4 separate regions of the Homo sapiens genome follow, and all the other regions are reported to be linked to region 2. Evidence: microRNA targets listed by miRTarBase, many of them from high-throughput screens and not tested one by one. Region 2 holds a microRNA gene; each other region holds the end of a gene's coding sequence.

Region 1 (4,064 bases), not on the chromosome of region 2:
AAGTAAACTACTAAGGTGTAATTTTAATATCATTTTGAAAATATGTATTAAGGTTTCTGATGTTTTAAATAATAAAATTTGGGTTACTATTTCACTTGAGAAAAATGACACTGTCGACCTTTGGTGTATATTTTTGTTTCTCCAATAGGCTCTTTCAAGTGAGTCATTTGAGAGACTTCCAGTTTTTAATAAGTCCGCATGGCGCCATTACAAGACCACGCCTGAAGCCGATGATTGGAGCAATCCCAGCAGTGAACCCAGGGATGCTTCAAAATACAAAGCAAAACAGTAATATACCACCTTGATTTCCATTACAAAGTATCTGATTTGTCTGAATAAAGGTGTCCCACTCACTGTTCCAGGAATTCTTGCAGTGTAGAGGTATTCACAACAGCAAGCAGGGATTTGGCCTGCCATCAATTTTATTTAAAAAGCAATTAAGTTTGCAGTTTGTCCTCATAAACGTTGTAGGTTGAAACTGAAAAATAAGTTAAAATGATCAATCAAGATAAAAGGTGATCTATCCATCCAATGGAATATTATTTGGCCTTAAAAAGGAAGGACATTCTGATATGTGCTGCAACATGGGTGAATCTTGAAGTCATTATGCTAAGTGAAATAAACCAGACATAAAAGGACAAATACTATGATTCCACTTATGTGAAGTACCTAGAGTAGTCAAATGCAGAGACACAAAGTGGAAGGGAGGTTGCCAGGGGCTAGCGACGAAGATGGAATGGGGAGGCATTGTTTCATGGGTACAAAGTTTCAGGTGGAAAGATGAAAAACTTCTGGAGATGGATGGTGGTGATGCTTGCACAACAGCGTGAATGTACTCAATGCCACTGAACTGTACATGTAGCAATGGTTAAGATGGTAAGTTCTGGGCTGGGTGTGGTGGCTCACGCCTGTAATCCCAACACTTTGGGAGGCTGAGGCTGGATGATCTCTTGAAGCCAGGAGTTCAAGACCAGCCTAGGCAACATAGTGAGACCTCTGTCTCAGCAAAAAATTTAAAAAGGTAAAATTAGCCGTGTGTGGTGGTGTGGGTCTGTAGTCCTAGCTACTCAGGAAGCTGAGGCGGGAGGATCACTTGAGCCCAGGACTTCCAGGCTGTAGTGAGCTATGATTCGCACCACTGCACACCAGCCTGGGGGACAGAATAAGACCGTGTCTCAAATAAGAAAAAGGTGGTAAGTTCTATGTTATGTATAGCTTATCACAATAAAAAATGTTAACATTATAAAGGAAAAGTTATCAATCACAGAACAAGTTTCACTGTTTTATGGTAATAAGGAAAATAATCTGTAGTTTTCTTCTGACTATGTACCCTTAAGCTTCAACTCTACTAGCAACAGTGGGGTTCTGCTTCATTTAACTTAAAATAATCCTGTATTAACAAAAAAGCAGTATATGTGCATTATAAAAAATAAGAAAACATTGGCTGGGCGCAGTGGCTCACGCCAGTAACCCCAGCACTTTGAGAGGCCGAGGTGGGTGGATCACTTGAAGTCAGGAGTTGGAGACCAGCCAGGCCAATATGGTGAAACTCTGTCTCTACTAAAAATACAAAAATTAGCCGGGTGTGGTGGCACACGCCTGTAATTCCAGCTACTTGAGAGGCTGAAGCAGGAGAATTGCTTGAACCCAGGAGACAGAGGTTGCAGTGAGCCAAGATAGTACCACTGCACTCCAGCCTGGGCGATAGAGCTAGACTCCATCTCAAAAAAAAAAAAAAAAAAGAAGAAGAAGAAGAAGAAGAAAGAAAACATAAGTAAGCCAAAAAAGAAGGAGAAACCTCTGTGTTCCCAAAACCCAGAGATTGCCACTGCTATAGCTTCGTGTATATTCTTCCAGATATTTTGCCATTTGTGTATATATGTATTTTTTTTGCAAATGAGATTACACTATTCATACTATTTTACAACCTGCTTTTGTTTCATTTAACCATCCCATCTTTCCATGTCAATGATCATTCACTGCAACCTCTGCCTCCTGGCTTCAAGTGATTCTCATTCCTCAGCCACCTGAGTAGCTGGGATTACAGGCGTGGGCCACCATGCCTGGCTAATTTTTATATTTTTAGTAGAGACAGGGTTTTGCCATGTTGTCCATGCTGGTCAAAAAAAAAAAAAAGAAAGAAAAGAAGGAAGGAAAGGAAGGAAAAGAAGGAAGGAAAGGAAGGAAAAGAAGGAAAGGAAGAAAGGAAGGAAGGAAAGGGAGGGGGAAGGGGAAGGGAGGGGAGGGGAGGGAAGGGAAGGAAAGGAAAGGAAAGAGCTAATGGAGCATTTTTTGCTAGAATATCCATAAACACTGTTGCAGAATTACACTGAGACCCATGACATCTCATTGACCCACCATTAGTGATGTTATGATTGAGCATAGTTTAGGTGATGGCTGTCTGATCCCTCTGAGTTATAGTTATTTTTCCCTTTTTCACTAGAAAATAATCTGTGTGGTGTTATTTTGGCACTATGCAAATGTATACTTACCCATCAGCTGTTCACCTAATGGTTTTTACCCCAATTGATCATTTCGGCCTGTGTTAAAATTAACACAGTAATTTTATTTGGGTTTATAAAAGAATGTTTTTTTTTTAAATCATTCCTTTGTCAATTATTCTCCTATAAAGTAAAGCTCTTCCTCATCAAATAAGGCCATTTAGGTATTTTGAAGTACAGTTCCTCTGGTAACTGTTTAACTCCTTCCTTTTAAATTTAAAGGGACAATTAAATTCCCTTCAAGTTACCAATTTTCCAGGTAAGAAATATGTTAAAAGCCACCTTAAATGGTTAACAAATGAGTTTATGGCTTTGTCTTTTTTAGTGTTATAGTAGATTTTGTTACTTTGATATGTTTTAATTGGCACTTATTTTATTGAAGCATAACATATAGTAATAGTAAAGTGCACACATCTTAAGTTTACAGCTTTTTTTTTTACATCTATATTTCCTCTACCCACAAAGACTCCTTTCTAGTCAAACAGTTGTCCCTCCCTCCTCCACCATATAATTGCTTTTCTAACTCTATCACCATAGGTTCTCTTCTTGAATTTACAAGGAACACATAGTCTATACTCTTTTTGTGTCTGGCTTTATGTGAGATTCATCCATGTTATTGCATGTAACAGTCATTTTCCTTTTTGATGCTTGAATTGACATACCTTTGGCCAATGAGAGCTATTTCCAGCTGGATCCTTAGTGTTCTATTGCCAAAACTCATTAATCTTTGAAAGCTTTTCTTGCCCAAGATGATATCCTAGATTCATCTTATACCTTCTGTGCCTGTGTCCTAGAATCAACTGTTTCCCTCAAGGAGTCTTGTTTCTTTTCTTTTCTTTTTTTTTTTTTTTTTTGAGACAGAGTCTCACTCTGTCACCCAGGTTGGAGTGCAGTGGCGCAATCTCAGCTCACTGCAGCTCTACCTCCTGGGTTCAAGCGATTCTCATGTCTCAGCCTCCCAAGTAGCTGGGACTACAGGCATGAGCCACCACGCCTGGCTATTTTTTTTTTTTTTTTTTTTTTGTATTTTTAGTAGAGTTGGGGTTTCGCCATGTTGGCCAGGCTGGTCTCGAACTCCTGACCTCAGGTGATCTGCCTGCCTTGGCCTCCCAAAGTGCTGGGATTACAGGCATAAGCCACTGCACCCAGCCCTGTTTCTTTTTAATCAGTATTAGAGATGCTAATCTGATAATTGGGGATGCTTGTTATACCTTTTTTAGGCCCTTTTCCTTGACAGACAGAGCTATAAAATATAGCTATATTTAAAATATATTTTAAATCATAAGTTCATATTGATATTTTATTCTATTTTAACATTGTAATGTTTCTCCCCAATATATTTTAATTGTATATATTTCTTATTATCCTGAAAACCTTGATTTTTAACATCTTTAACACAATGCAACAGAAAGATATTTGTACACAAATACAGTTTATATAGCTTTGCAGTATTGTACCATTTAGTAGCGTTGGTCTTCTCTGACAAGTGTTATAAATGATATCCATATGGATGTTTATTTTTTTCTATGGAAGTGTCATGGTGGACTGCTACGCAATATTGCT
Region 2 (4,066 bases):
GAAAGATCACACCATGTGTGCACAAACTATTTCACTTGGAATCACTTTGGTCTGAACACCAGTGATTCTTTTGCCGGACTGCCTTTGTCCACCTTCCTATAAATTAGTTTTACATATACAAAGTTCACAACAGTTTTCATCCCTCTACCACGTTTACCTTTACTTACTGTGGCTGTCTTCAGCCTTTCCTCTAGGGCAGCGGTGTTCACGCGGTAGTGTGCGCTGCAATCACCTTGCTAAACACAGATGCTGCTGGGGCCCACCCACCAGGGCGCCTGAGCCAGCAGGCCTGGGTGCAGCCTAGACACCTGCATTTCCGACAAGCTCCCAGGTGGAGGCTGGGGCCGCTGGTCCAGGAGCCACACTTGGAGAACGATGGATTTCTGTCAATAGCAATTTCAGCCTTGCTATGTCGTTTGTTGCTGTTTGAAATGTATTGGTTTGGTTCTGACACTGTTTCGGTTCTGTTTGCTTCCTGAGGTCTGACATCTTATTTTCATTTCTTAGTCTTATACGTTGTTGACATTTATTTTATTGAATTCATGTTCTTATCAAACTGTTCTCTTAGGCAAAGCACAGGAATATTTTTTTTTTCTGTTCACGAGCTGTGCGTCCTCTGCCTTCCGCATGTTTATCTTGCGCATGCTGTGGTCCCTTCTCCAGCACTGAGTCACGGGTTTCTCTGTGGGACGTTTGCCTGTCACTTGCCCTCCCCTTCCCTGCCTTTCCATTCTCTTCAAGCCCGAGCAGCTCTGACTGGGTCCTCATATGTTTTAACACAGCACTGGAGGGGTTTTAACTCTTTCCACAAAACCTGGCAAAGGCTCGTCTTCCCCTCTTAGCCACAGGAAGCCCAGGCAGTTTGTGTTCAGGCCACCTTCGGGAAGCCTGCAAGGATGGTGGTGGCAGGAGGAGCTCAGCCGAAGTGGAAGAAGGTTCGTTCAAATGCTGAGGCTCTGCTCCTGCTTCTGGAATCCTGTGAAATGGCCCAGACCAGAGCTGGCTTCACCTCATCACAGGGAGAGTGGTGCATCCAGTCCTGGTCTCAGGCCATGCCCACAGGCCAACGCATCCCTGGAGCCTCCACTTCTTACGGAGAGTTTCAACTCACAGTTATCTTCCCATGTCTGCCAGAGGCATTGCAAGACTCCCTGTCTCCAGATCCCAAGCACAGAGGCGGCCTGGGGCTCCGCTTGTGTACCAGTGGGACTCAGGCTTGGTGGCAGGTCAGAGCCACACGAATCTGCCTTCTGCTCTACTCTGAAATCTTTTGCTTATTTTATTGGCTACTAATTTTTCTTTCTTTTTTTTTGAGATGGGGTCTCACAGTGCCACACAGGCTGGATGGAGTGCAGTGGCGCAATCAGAGCTCACTGCAGCCCCAATTTCCTGGGCTCAAGTGATCCTCCCGCCTCAGCCTCCCAAAGTGTTGGGATTACAGGCGTGAGCCACTACACCTGGTCTTTGGCTACAAATTTTCAAAGTGTATGGCCTTGTTTGTTTTCTGCTGGGATTATTTTTCTAGTTTTTCCTTTCTATTCTGTTAGGGACTGGGGGCAGGACACTGTGATTCCGCTTAATCCTGCTGTCTTTGACATTTTTTTAATGTCCATGAGCAGGGACAAATCTTAGTCTCATAAGAATGTGCCTGATTTGGGAAGCAGGCCTCACTCAGCACCGACCGCCCCTCCTGGCACAGCACTGGCATCCCCTGGTGTTCCATAAACACAGAGACTGAGAGATGAGCAGACGAGTATGGGCCCTGGATGCTCCCTGCAGCCCCTCTGCAGAGCTGGACCTGCAGTCCAAGACTCCTTGGGGATGAGGGGTCTAGGGTTTAGTCCCTGTCCCTGGACAGTGATGGAGCTAAAGGCATGGGGCAGCGTCTGTCCCTTTTATGGGGGGAAGCTGAGGCTGCTGGGGGCAGTGCCTGTCCCGAGATGTCCCCAGACTCAGGTGCTCTGCTCCTTCCTTCCCATAAATCCTGGGCCTCCCCTGTGTCCTAAGGGCCTGCGGCCACCTGGCTAGTCCTGTTGCTGGTCCTCCTCCAGGTGCAGGGCACCGGTGCCCGCAAAATGAGCCACCCTGCCCCTGACCACTGCAGCCAGGCCCCTGAGAGGAGGCACATGACTCAGCCCACCCCCTCCTGGCATTGTTATCCTCCTGCCAAGATCCTGAGGCCATGCCAGAAAGGACCTGGGGCCAGCCTAGACCTTTCCATCATTTCACGTAGGCAGCAGCCTTGCCAAAGTCCCCGGGGGCAGAGCGGCTGTTTGGGTCTGGCGTCTGCTCCAGCCTGGCGTCCCCCATGCTGAGTGTGGCCCCAGGGCCAGCGCCGCAGGCTGAGATCCCAAGGCTGCATCTCTGGCTCGGACCTCTGGTCACGGCTCAGGCTGGGTGCCTGGCTGGCCACCTCCCCTCACAGTGCTGTCAGACTCTCAGTGAGCTCATGGCGGGAAATGATTACCTTTCCATGTGAATTCAGGCCGGGTCTGGACAAGTGAGGAGGTGCACTTTCCTCCACATCTGTTTGAAAGTGATTTTCTTCATGGAACTGGCAGCGCGGATCAAGAAAAATGACTCAGAACCGACAAAAACTCCAGGTCTTCCAAGGAAACAAAATCAAACACCAGTGTGCCTAATGGAAGCCTCTGGCAGCCTGGAGAGTGCAGCTCGACAGCCCCTGGTGGTCCCAGGGCCTCTGCTCGCTCGTTAGCCAGGGTTTCCAGCTCAAGGAGCAAGCTCTGTCCACGCCCAGAGCCACCTGCCCCTGTCCCCAGAGCCTTGGGGCCATAGTAACTTTGGAGGAAACTGGTCCCCAAAGCTCGGCCAACCCGCCACCATCCGCAATAGAAGGCAAAGGCTGCAGGACCACCCTAGGTGGGGGGCACACTGGCCCTCCCAGGCTGCACCCCGCGCCCAGAGCTCATCTCCAGACACAGCCATGGGGGTGACTTCCCAGGGGGCCTGTGGAGGCTGCTTCTTTATTGCAAGGTGCCTCCCCGAGACAGAATTCCATGGTTTTGGTAGCAGACTCCCAGGCAAGCCTCCCTGCCTCTCCTCTCTCTATCCTCTACAGAAACCCAGGCACGTGTACAGCCATCAGAGCCCCGGCACCCCTCCCGCAGGAGGGCCTGACTGGGGAGGAAATGACAAGCCACTTCTCAGGTCACCGGCAGGCGTTGAGCAGGCCGCTCTGCAGACGCTGGGCTCCTTCATTTGCACAACCGCAGCGGCAGCGCCATCATTCCTCCTGCTTTGCAGCCAGGAAGACACGAGCTCACAGATCAGCAATTTGCCCAAAGTCACGCTGCTGCTGAGTGGAGACAGGAAATCAGAGCCTCCTTGCTACCCAGACCAAGCTCCTCACCTCTGAGCGTCGCTCCAGCTCCTTTCAAAGACGCTGGGAGGCCCCTCGGGGGAAGAGCGGACACCCCAACCGGAACGCAGGCTGCACCGCGAGGCTCCCTGCGCCCCACCGAGCCGGTCAGGGCTGCAGTCTACCCCGTATGGCCAGGCTGGGAGGATCCTGGGGGCTGAGGCTCCCTCCAGGGAGGACTTGGCCACACACTGGTCCTTCATGAACAGTTTTCTCACGGAATGGATCGATTGGCCCTGGGATGAAAACCAGCATGTCAGAGCAGAAGCATCTCCAGAGCTTCCACCCAGTTACTTTGTATTTTTTAAACACACAATGAATGTGCACACCAAGAGAAGTGCTGCAGCTCAACCAGGCATCACGGCCAAACGTGCAGAGTGGACCACTCCAGACCCCCCTGAAGGCCGTCCCCAGGCTTCAAGGGCCCACAGGGCTCCGGGACTGCAAGCCAGAAGCACCCTGTGTGCAACCCAGGTGCCTGGAGCAGGAGGGTGGAAGACACTGCGCTGAGAATGGGATCCGCTTGCGGACAGGAAGCAGCCCAGAGCCTCACATAATGAGCTGCACCCCCAGACCAGGACAGGAGAGGAGGGCCCCAGGGATTCCGTTCTGAACAGGGAGCCCAGGCTTCCAGGGCAGACGTGTCCCTTGCAGGTTTCCAGAGAGAGGGGCCACACCTTGGCAGCT
Region 3 (4,064 bases), not on the chromosome of region 2:
TAAATAAAATGTAACTTAATACACTACTTTTGGAATTACATCTAAAAATTATTTTGTGTGCACTAAATTTCATAAAAATTCTTATAATCACAGACCAGCTCATATAATGAATACTTCCTAAACCATAAAACAAAAAAAATGTAAGAAACAAAAAAAGTATGGGTCTAGCATGAGTACCAGGCAAGTATATACAGAGAATTTGCATGAAAAGGTTCAGAACTGTAAGTCATGGATTGTACAGTAATAAATTCAATACAAAGCACAAAGTATACATTTGCTTTCAGCATTTTTTAAGGTTTTTAGTTTTATAGTAGCCACCTTATTAAAATGATTTTTATTCCCATATTGTTCTTTTCTGAAAATAGGTACAAACTCATACTCACACACACACACTTATTCCATAATTTTCTTACACCTAAAGTTTGTCTTTAGACTAATACATATTTAACTCTATGTGAATCAAAAAGTCTGCATGTTTGCAGGCAGACAGGCCACATGTTCAAAGAAAAATATATAACAATTTGGAAAAAATATTAATAGTTTAGAAATGAATTTTATTTATACTCATATATAATTTGTATTATGACCATAAAAATAACTCTATAGTAAATAACAATTGTACATTTTAAAATTTATAAAAAGTGGCCGGGCACGGTGGCTCATGCCTGTAATCCCAGCACTTTGGGAGGTCAAGGCAGGCAGATCATGAGGTCAGGAGATCGAGACCAGATCACGAGGTCAGGAGATTGAGACCATCCTGGCTAACATGGTGAAACCCCATCTCTACTAAAAATACAAAAAATTAGCCGGGCATGGTGGTGGGCGCCTGTAGTCCTAGCTGCTTGGGAGGCTGAGGCAGGAAAATGGCGTGAACCCGGGAAGTGGAGCTTGCAGTGAGCCGAGATTGCACACTCCAGCCTGGGCGACAGAGCGAGACTCCGTCTCAACAACAACAAGAACAACAACAACAAAAAATTTTTAAAAAGTGTAGGTTTGGATTGTTTGTAAAACAAAGGAGAAATGCTATGGGTGAAGGATGCCTCACTTAACCCTGATGCTACTATTATATATTGTATTCCTGTACTAAAATATGCCATATAAGTGCATAAATATATACTCATATTATGTACCCACCAAAATTAAATTTAAATGATTAAAAACAAAATAAAAATTTAACCTACAGAAACAATATTCTTTAACTTATTTGCGGTTTAAAGCCACTGGCAAAAAAAATTACTAGAGATGTTAATCCATTATGTTACTAAATAGTATATCGTTACCATCTTTTACCTATACCCTTCAGTAAGGTGGAACAGGGTAAAGTTTGTGGTATAATAATGCTTCATTGAATGCACAATAGTATTTAACATGTTAAAAATGTTAAACTATTAACTTCACACAATCTAAAATTTTAAAAATGTACTGCATCTTATATAAAAGTACAATTAGTATGATAAACTAAATTTTAAATAAAATTAAATGTTTTTTCATAATGCAGAATATTACTCTGAACACCAACCTCATGCACCACTCAATATTATAAGTTAACCCCAAAGAACCTCTCCACTTACATTTTCATTATGCATCTTACATTCTAATGTTTTTACTTTTCAATAGAAAAGATCACAAATAATGCCCACCTAATAAAAAAGAATCTCTTGCCAGGAGCAGTGGCTCATGCCTGTGTAATCCCAGCACCTTTGGAGGCCAAGGTGGGTGGATCACAAGGTGAGGAGTTTGAGACCAGCCTGGCCAACATGATGAAATCCTGTCTGTACTAGAAACATAAAAATTAGCTGGGCGTGGTGATATGCGCCTGTAATCCCAGCTACTCAGGAGGCTGAGGGAGGAGAATCGCTTGAAACTGGAAATTGAAGGTTGCAGTGAGCCGAGATCATGCCACTGTGCTCCAGCCTGGACGAAAGAGCAAAACTCCATCTCAAAAAAACAGAACAAAACAAAGAAAGAATCTTTCATATCTTTGATACAGCAATAATTGATCCCATGCTTTCACATGTGAATCCAATAGGAATGAAGAAACGGCAGGAATTTCAGAGTTGAATGACATCATTATTCACTTTTCAAAAAATCTGTAATATTTTTCAAGAAATAAAGTATACTTTGAATGTAATTATAACTGCAAAAAACCTTCTGATCCTCTTAAAGTTATATACAAATAATTTTTCTACCAACTTTAATTTTCTATACTCAGCCCTCTGATTTAGTATATCTGATGTTGTCAGTGCCTTATGTATTTCTACCATAAATTCTGATATTTACACAGACTTACTTATGGATTAAATTTTTTTTAACTTTTACTGCATCTGCAAAAATATATTCTAGTATGAACTCTGTTTTCTAAGCTGTAGTTTTTGAAAAAGTGTTTTTCCAAATTTACTACATTTGCATGATTTTTCTTCAATATAAATTCCCTGATATTGAACAAAGTGTGAAAGTGCTTCAGAGTTTTTCCTCTACAAAAAATGTCTACAATAAGATCTGTGATACAAGTAAAGGCACTACTACCCACTTTATATTTGTAACATTCATCTTCAAAATAAATATTCTTCACTGTAAAGTTCATATTTTCTTTTTTTTTTACTTTTTAGATGGAGTCTTGCTCTGTGGCCCAGGCTAGAGTGCAATCTCAGCTCACTGCAACCTCTCCCTCCCCAAGTTCAAGTGATTCTCCTGCCTCAGCCTCTTGAGTAGCTGGGATTACAGGCACCACCACCGCAACCGGCTAATTGTTGTATTTTTAGTAGAGATGGGGTTTCACCATCTTGGATAGGCTGGTCTCAAACTCCTGACCTCATGATCCACCTGCCTTGGCCTACCAAAGTGCTGGGATTATAGGCCTGAGCCACCACGCCTGGTCAAAAGCTTGTATTTTCTGAAAGGTCTTTTGACAGTAATTGTACTTATAATGCTTTTATTAAGTATGAACTATCTGGTGTTGAGATATGAACATATATTAATGGCTTTTTCAGTCTTTATATTTGTATAATTTATCTCAAGTACAAATGCTTTCCTGTGCAATAAGGTGTGAGCACTGGTTAAGTTTTGCCACATTGTTCACACATGTAGGTGTTTTCTCCAGTATGAATTATCTTACCTACAATCAAGTGTGACAACCATTTAAAGGCTTTGTCTCATTCTTCAGATTTCTAAGATTTCTCACCAGTATAATTTCTTTTATGGTTAGAAAAGTTTGAGGTGTTGTCAAAAGCATTGCCAGATCTTTCTGGTTTGCAGAGTTTCTTTCCAGTATGAATTATGTTATGTCTGTTAAGAATTGAGGGCTTGTTAAAGGCTTTGCCATGTTTTTCACCCTCGTAGGGTTTCTGTACAGTATGAATTTTTAATGCCTAGTAAGAGTTGAAGACTGGTTAAAGGCTTTGCCATATTCTTCACATTTGTAGAATTTCTCTCCAGTATAAATTATTTTCTTAAAAAGGTTCGAGGACTGGTTGAAAGCACTGGCACATTCTTCACAATTGTAGGGTTTCGTTCCAGTATGAATTTTCTTTTCTTTTTTTTTTTTTTTTTGAGACAGAGTCTTGCCTTGTGGCCCAGGCTGGAGTAGAATGGCGCGATCTTGGCTCACTGCAACCTCTGCCTCCCAGGTTCAAATGATTCTCCTGCCTCTGCCTCCCAAGTAGCTGGGATTACAGGCGCCTGCCACCACACCCAGCAAATTTTTGTATTTTTAGTAGAGATGGGGTTTTACCATGTTGGCCAGGCTGGTCTTGAACTCCTGACCTCGCGATCTGCTCACCTAGTCCTCTCAAAGTGTTGGGATTACAGGCATGAGCCACCATGCCCTGCTGAATTTTCCTATGTTTAGTAAGAGTTGAGGATTGGTTAAAGGCTTTACCACATTCTTCACATTTGTAAGATTTCTCTCCAGTATGAATTATGTTATGTTTAGTAAGGTTTGAGGATCGGTTGAAAGCTTTGCCACATTCTTCACATTTGTAGGGTTTCTCTCCAGTGTGAATTCTCTTATGTGTAGTAAGGTTTGAGGATCGGTTAAAAGCTTTGCCACATTCTTCACATTTGTA
Region 4 (4,064 bases), not on the chromosome of region 2:
CAACGCTAGGCTGTGCTTCTCTGGAGCCCGCGAGGGGCACCTGCCCAGCCTGCTGGCCATGATCCACGTCAGACACTGCACCCCCATCCCCGCCCTCCTCGTCTGTGTAAGTTGGGGGACCTGGGCCAGGCAGGGCGTGGAGGCAGGGCTACCCGGCAATGCAGGACCTTCCGGGTAATGGCAGGGGTGAGCCATTCCAGGGTGGGGGTTGGGGGTGGGGCCAGGGCTCATCCTGCAGGGGCGTCAGGAGGCAGGCTAGGGGCCAGCCGTCAGCCCCAGGTCCTCTCCCAGTGCGGGGCCACAGCCGTCATCATGCTCGTGGGCGACACGTACACGCTCATCAACTATGTGTCCTTCATCAACTACCTCTGCTACGGCGTCACCATCCTGGGCCTGCTGCTGCTGCGCTGGAGGCGGCCTGCACTCCACAGGCCCATCAAGGTGAGGCCCTGGGACAGCTGGCCCTGTGCCGGGTGCTGCCAGAGCCACCCCTGCATCCACAGTGGGCACCAGGGGCAGGTGGGATGGGAGGTGCCAGCTTTTGTGGAGTGTTGGGCCCTGCTCAGGGCTCTCTGTGCACTGAGGCAGCCATTCCTCATAGCAGCCCCATGAGGACAGAGCTTTGAATGCTCCCAGTGTACAGATGGCGAAAATGAGGCTCAGGACTGGGCACAGGGGCTCATGCCTATTCCAGCACTTTGGGAGGCCGAGGTGGGAGGATTGCTGGAGCCCAGGAGTTTGAGACCAGCCTGGGCAACATAACGAGACTTCCTCTCTGCAAAAAGTTAAAAATAAAAGGGTTAGCCTGGTGTGGTGGTGCGCACCTGTGGTCCCAGCTACTTGAGAGGCTGAAATGGGAGGATCGCTTGAGCCCGGGAGGTTGAGGCTGCAGTGAGCGGTGCTAGGGCCACCGTACTCCAACCTGGGTGACAGAGGGAGACCCTGTCTCAAAAAAAAAAAAAAATTAAAGAAAATGAGACTCAGGAACTGTTCAAGGTCACAAAGGCTGCCAGGATTTCATGAGCCCACACAAAAACAGAAGACCATAGCCTGAGCTAAAAGCAAAGCCCCCCATGTGTGTATAAATCCTTAAGTGGAGAAGTGCTCAGTGCCTGAAATGTGAAACACCAAAAAATCACTGACCTCCAGCCAAGTGCAAGCCTCAAGTCCACACGCAACCGCTGTGTGGAGCTCGGTGCCGCTGAGACTTTGAAAAATCCTCAGCAAAACTGGCCAACGGCCTGACCCATGAATTGGCCTCCAACACACTGGGCTGTCGCCAAGAGGGGGTGTAGTGGGTGCAATTGCCCTTCAGGCCTCAGCTCCCAGGGAAGGGAGGAAAATTCCCCAGACCCCCAGGGGTCGGGGGTACAGACAGCTGGAGGCCCTGCACCATCGGTGTTTCTGCTCCCCCTTCCCCAGGTGAACCTTCTCATCCCCGTGGCGTACTTGGTCTTCTGGGCCTTCCTGCTGGTCTTCAGCTTCATCTCAGAGCCTATGGTCTGTGGGGTCGGCGTCATCATCATCCTTACGGGGGTGCCCATTTTCTTTCTGGGAGTGTTCTGGAGAAGCAAACCAAAGTGTGTGCACAGACTCACAGGTGAGCCGGGCAGCTGCAGGTCACCCAGCACAGGGGGCCGGGGCCTGGAGACCAGACCTCCCTCTTAGAGGCTCACCCCAGAGCAGGGTGTCCTAGCAGCTGAGGTGGGAACACAGGGCCCAGCCGCCACCAAATGTCTCTTCCCAAGATGTACCCAAAGTTTCCAGAACCACGGGTACCGACGGAGCAACTCCCTGAAGACCCCTGCCCAAGGGGAGGTGTCCGGAGCTGGGGGTCACCCCTATCCCGAGAGGTCAGGCCCCAAGGTCCATCTGTCTGTCCTCAGAGTCCATGACACACTGGGGCCAGGAGCTGTGTTTCGTGGTCTACCCCCAGGACGCCCCCGAAGAGGAGGAGAATGGCCCCTGCCCACCCTCCCTGCTGCCTGCCACAGACAAGCCCTCGAAGCCACAATGAGATTTTTGTAGAGACTGAAGCAGTTGTTTCTGTTTACATGTTGTTTATTGAGGAGGTGTTTTGGCAAAAAAGTTTTGTTTTGTTTTTTTCTGGAAAAAAAAGAAAAAAGATACGACTCTCAGAAGCCTGTTTAAGGAAGCCCTAAAATGTGGACTGGGTTTCCTGTCTTAGCACTGCCCTGCTAGCTCTTCCTGAAAAGGCCTATAAATAAACAGGGCTGGCTGTTCGCTCGTGCTATGGGGAGTCCCTGATGGGCACAGATGGGAGTGGCTGGGGCGTACCTCGGTGGGTGCACACATGTTGCTGGCCAGGAAGATGCCGTGGCAGGCCCTGGAGGAGGCTCTTGACATTAGGGGGCTTTGCTGCTTGACACAGGCGCTCCCTACCATGGCACCCAGAGTCCCCCTGCCCTAAAGGGATGTCGAGGATGGGGTAGCAGCTCAGTCCGCCCCTACCCCAGGCCCCTCGATGCCAGTCTGAGCTCGGCCACCCAGGAGAGCTCAGGGGCTCCAGGCTGGGATTGTCTTTCTTCCCGTAAATCACCACAGAGTGAAGGTCAGGACTTCAGAGCCCACAGTCTCACCCTGGCTTACAGGTGGGGAAACCGAGGCCCTGAGATAGGATGGAACAGACGTGGCCACTGCTGTTGGTGCCTCGGCCTCTCTGTCCCCAGAAAGCACAGAGCAGCATGTCCTGGGGGCTTTGAGGCCTGCAGGGAACTCCAGGGGCTTCATGTACAGCAGGCACACACCCCAGCCCTTCCACGGTGCCCAGGAGATTGGACCTTCAGGGAGGGCAAAGGGCGCCTGCCTGGCCAGGGGCATGAGGGTTTGGCAGGAGCCACCCAACCCAGGTCCTCCAGAGGCCTTGCTGGACAGGAAGAGGGTGAGGCGTGAGCAAAATAGTCACCACGGATGAGACCCAGCGTCCCCATGGCCCGGCCCCATCCTCATGACAACTCCCAGCTCTAGGGGCAGCTGTTGCCACTGCAGGGCAGATGAAGCAAAAAGGCTCTGGTCCCCTGCTTCTCTGGAAATGGGTTCCCAGAATGGAGTGGGGGGAGAGAAGTGAGACCCCAGGGTGCTTGTGTACAATGGGACCCTGCAGACGGGCTCACCACTCCACTCTTCTCCCCCCCGCCGTTCAGTCCCACAGCTCCCGCCCACCAGTGCAGCCAGCTGGCTTAGGGGCCAGCCCCTCCGCTGGGGTCCCCGGAGGGCCTCTCCATAAGAAAGGACGCAGAGGCAGGGTAGAAATGACTGTGTATTCCCTGGTTACAAAGCGGGGCTGTGGCGGTCACCAGCGAGCCCAGCGGTCAACAGACCAACAGGGCCTCATCATCGCTGGCCTCCAGCATTGGGGAGCAGGGGGGCGGGGGGTTCCTGCAGACCCCCAGTGGCTCTGGCGAGTGGGGGCCCAGGGTGCTGCTGGCAGTGGAGACCTGGGGGTGCGGGTCCTGGGCTGAGCAGGGCTCCCGAGGTGCATCTGCAGGAGCTGGGCCGTCTACCAGTGGCTCCCTGCAGACCTTTCTGTCCTTGTCCACGGGCCTGCACTCTGGGTCTCGCAGGCCCGAGGGCAAGGGTGGCCCTGAAGGTCCCACCTCCGGTGCACGGCCGGGGGCACTGGGGGGCCTGTCTCCGGCCGCCCTGGTGCTGCCTGTGTCCATGAGCGGTGCTGGGGGGTCGGGGGCAGCCCCTGGAGCAGGCTGGAGGAAGCCATCGCCCAGCACGGTCTGTGAGGGGCGTGCTGCGGTCAGCAGTGGGATCTGGCCTCGGGGCGCCCGCGGCCGGTGAAAGAGCCGGTTCCAGAGGCGGCCGAGGCGGCGGCGGGAGGGCCCCCGGCGGGAGGCGTGCCGACGCATCTGTCTCCGCATGGCTGTGCGAAGATTCTGCAGCACAGAGGCCTGTGGGGTGGAGCAGGGTAGGGGCGGGGGGATGCGGCTGAGGGGGCAGACAGGCTGCTCAGGGGCAGGAGACAGCACACCCCCAAGGGACCTGAGACCCGAGAGACCACCTTGTCCACCCCCCCCACCTGGCCATGGGCCCTC

What was found. Region 2 holds the annotated microRNA hsa-miR-4786-5p (UGAGACCAGGACUGGAUGCACC, at 1,027-1,048, opposite strand). A microRNA usually pairs through its seed, bases 2 to 8, with sites in the 3' UTR of a target mRNA and lowers its output. Matches are read on the target gene's strand: a 7mer-m8 pairs with bases 2 to 8, a 7mer-A1 pairs with bases 2 to 7 and ends in A, and an 8mer does both.
Region 1: the mRNA of PDK3 is a reported target of hsa-miR-4786-5p. The part of its 3' UTR that is shown has no 7-base or 8-base seed match.
Region 3: miRTarBase lists ZNF714 as a target of hsa-miR-4786-5p. Seed matches in the 3' UTR shown: 8mer at 1,739-1,746, 8mer at 748-755 and 7mer-m8 at 722-728.
Region 4: the mRNA of LRP3 is a reported target of hsa-miR-4786-5p. Seed matches in the 3' UTR shown: 7mer-A1 at 3,086-3,092 and 7mer-A1 at 2,933-2,939.

The regions. Positions count from the first base shown.
Region 1 is chrX:24,533,781-24,537,844 of GRCh38, forward strand. PDK3 (pyruvate dehydrogenase kinase 3) reads left to right here. Exons shown (of 11, transcript NM_005391.5): 11 at 149-642. The coding sequence ends at 292. Among named protein-coding and RNA genes, the nearest start is that of PDK3, 71 kb to the left of the region's middle.
Region 2 is chr2:239,942,037-239,946,102 of GRCh38, forward strand. It overlaps MIR4786 (microRNA 4786), which reads right to left and starts at 1,058; the gene lies at 979-1,058. It also overlaps a transcript of NDUFA10 not described here. RefSeq lists enhancers at 2,749-3,685, 3,254-3,303, 3,434-3,543, 3,686-4,066.
Region 3 is chr19:21,117,937-21,122,000 of GRCh38, reverse strand. ZNF714 (zinc finger protein 714) reads right to left here. Exons shown (of 5, transcript NM_182515.4): 5 at 1-4,064. The coding sequence ends at 3,669. Among named protein-coding and RNA genes, the nearest start is that of ZNF431, 22 kb to the left of the region's middle.
Region 4 is chr19:33,206,844-33,210,907 of GRCh38, reverse strand. LRP3 (LDL receptor related protein 3) reads right to left here. Exons shown (of 7, transcript NM_002333.4): 7 at 2,044-3,920. The coding sequence ends at 3,333. SLC7A10 (solute carrier family 7 member 10) reads left to right here. Exons shown (of 11, transcript NM_019849.3): 8 at 10-106; 9 at 292-441; 10 at 1,423-1,600; 11 at 1,887-2,244. The coding sequence ends at 2,017. Among named protein-coding and RNA genes, the nearest start is that of LRP3, 15 kb to the right of the region's middle. RefSeq lists an enhancer at 3,290-3,791.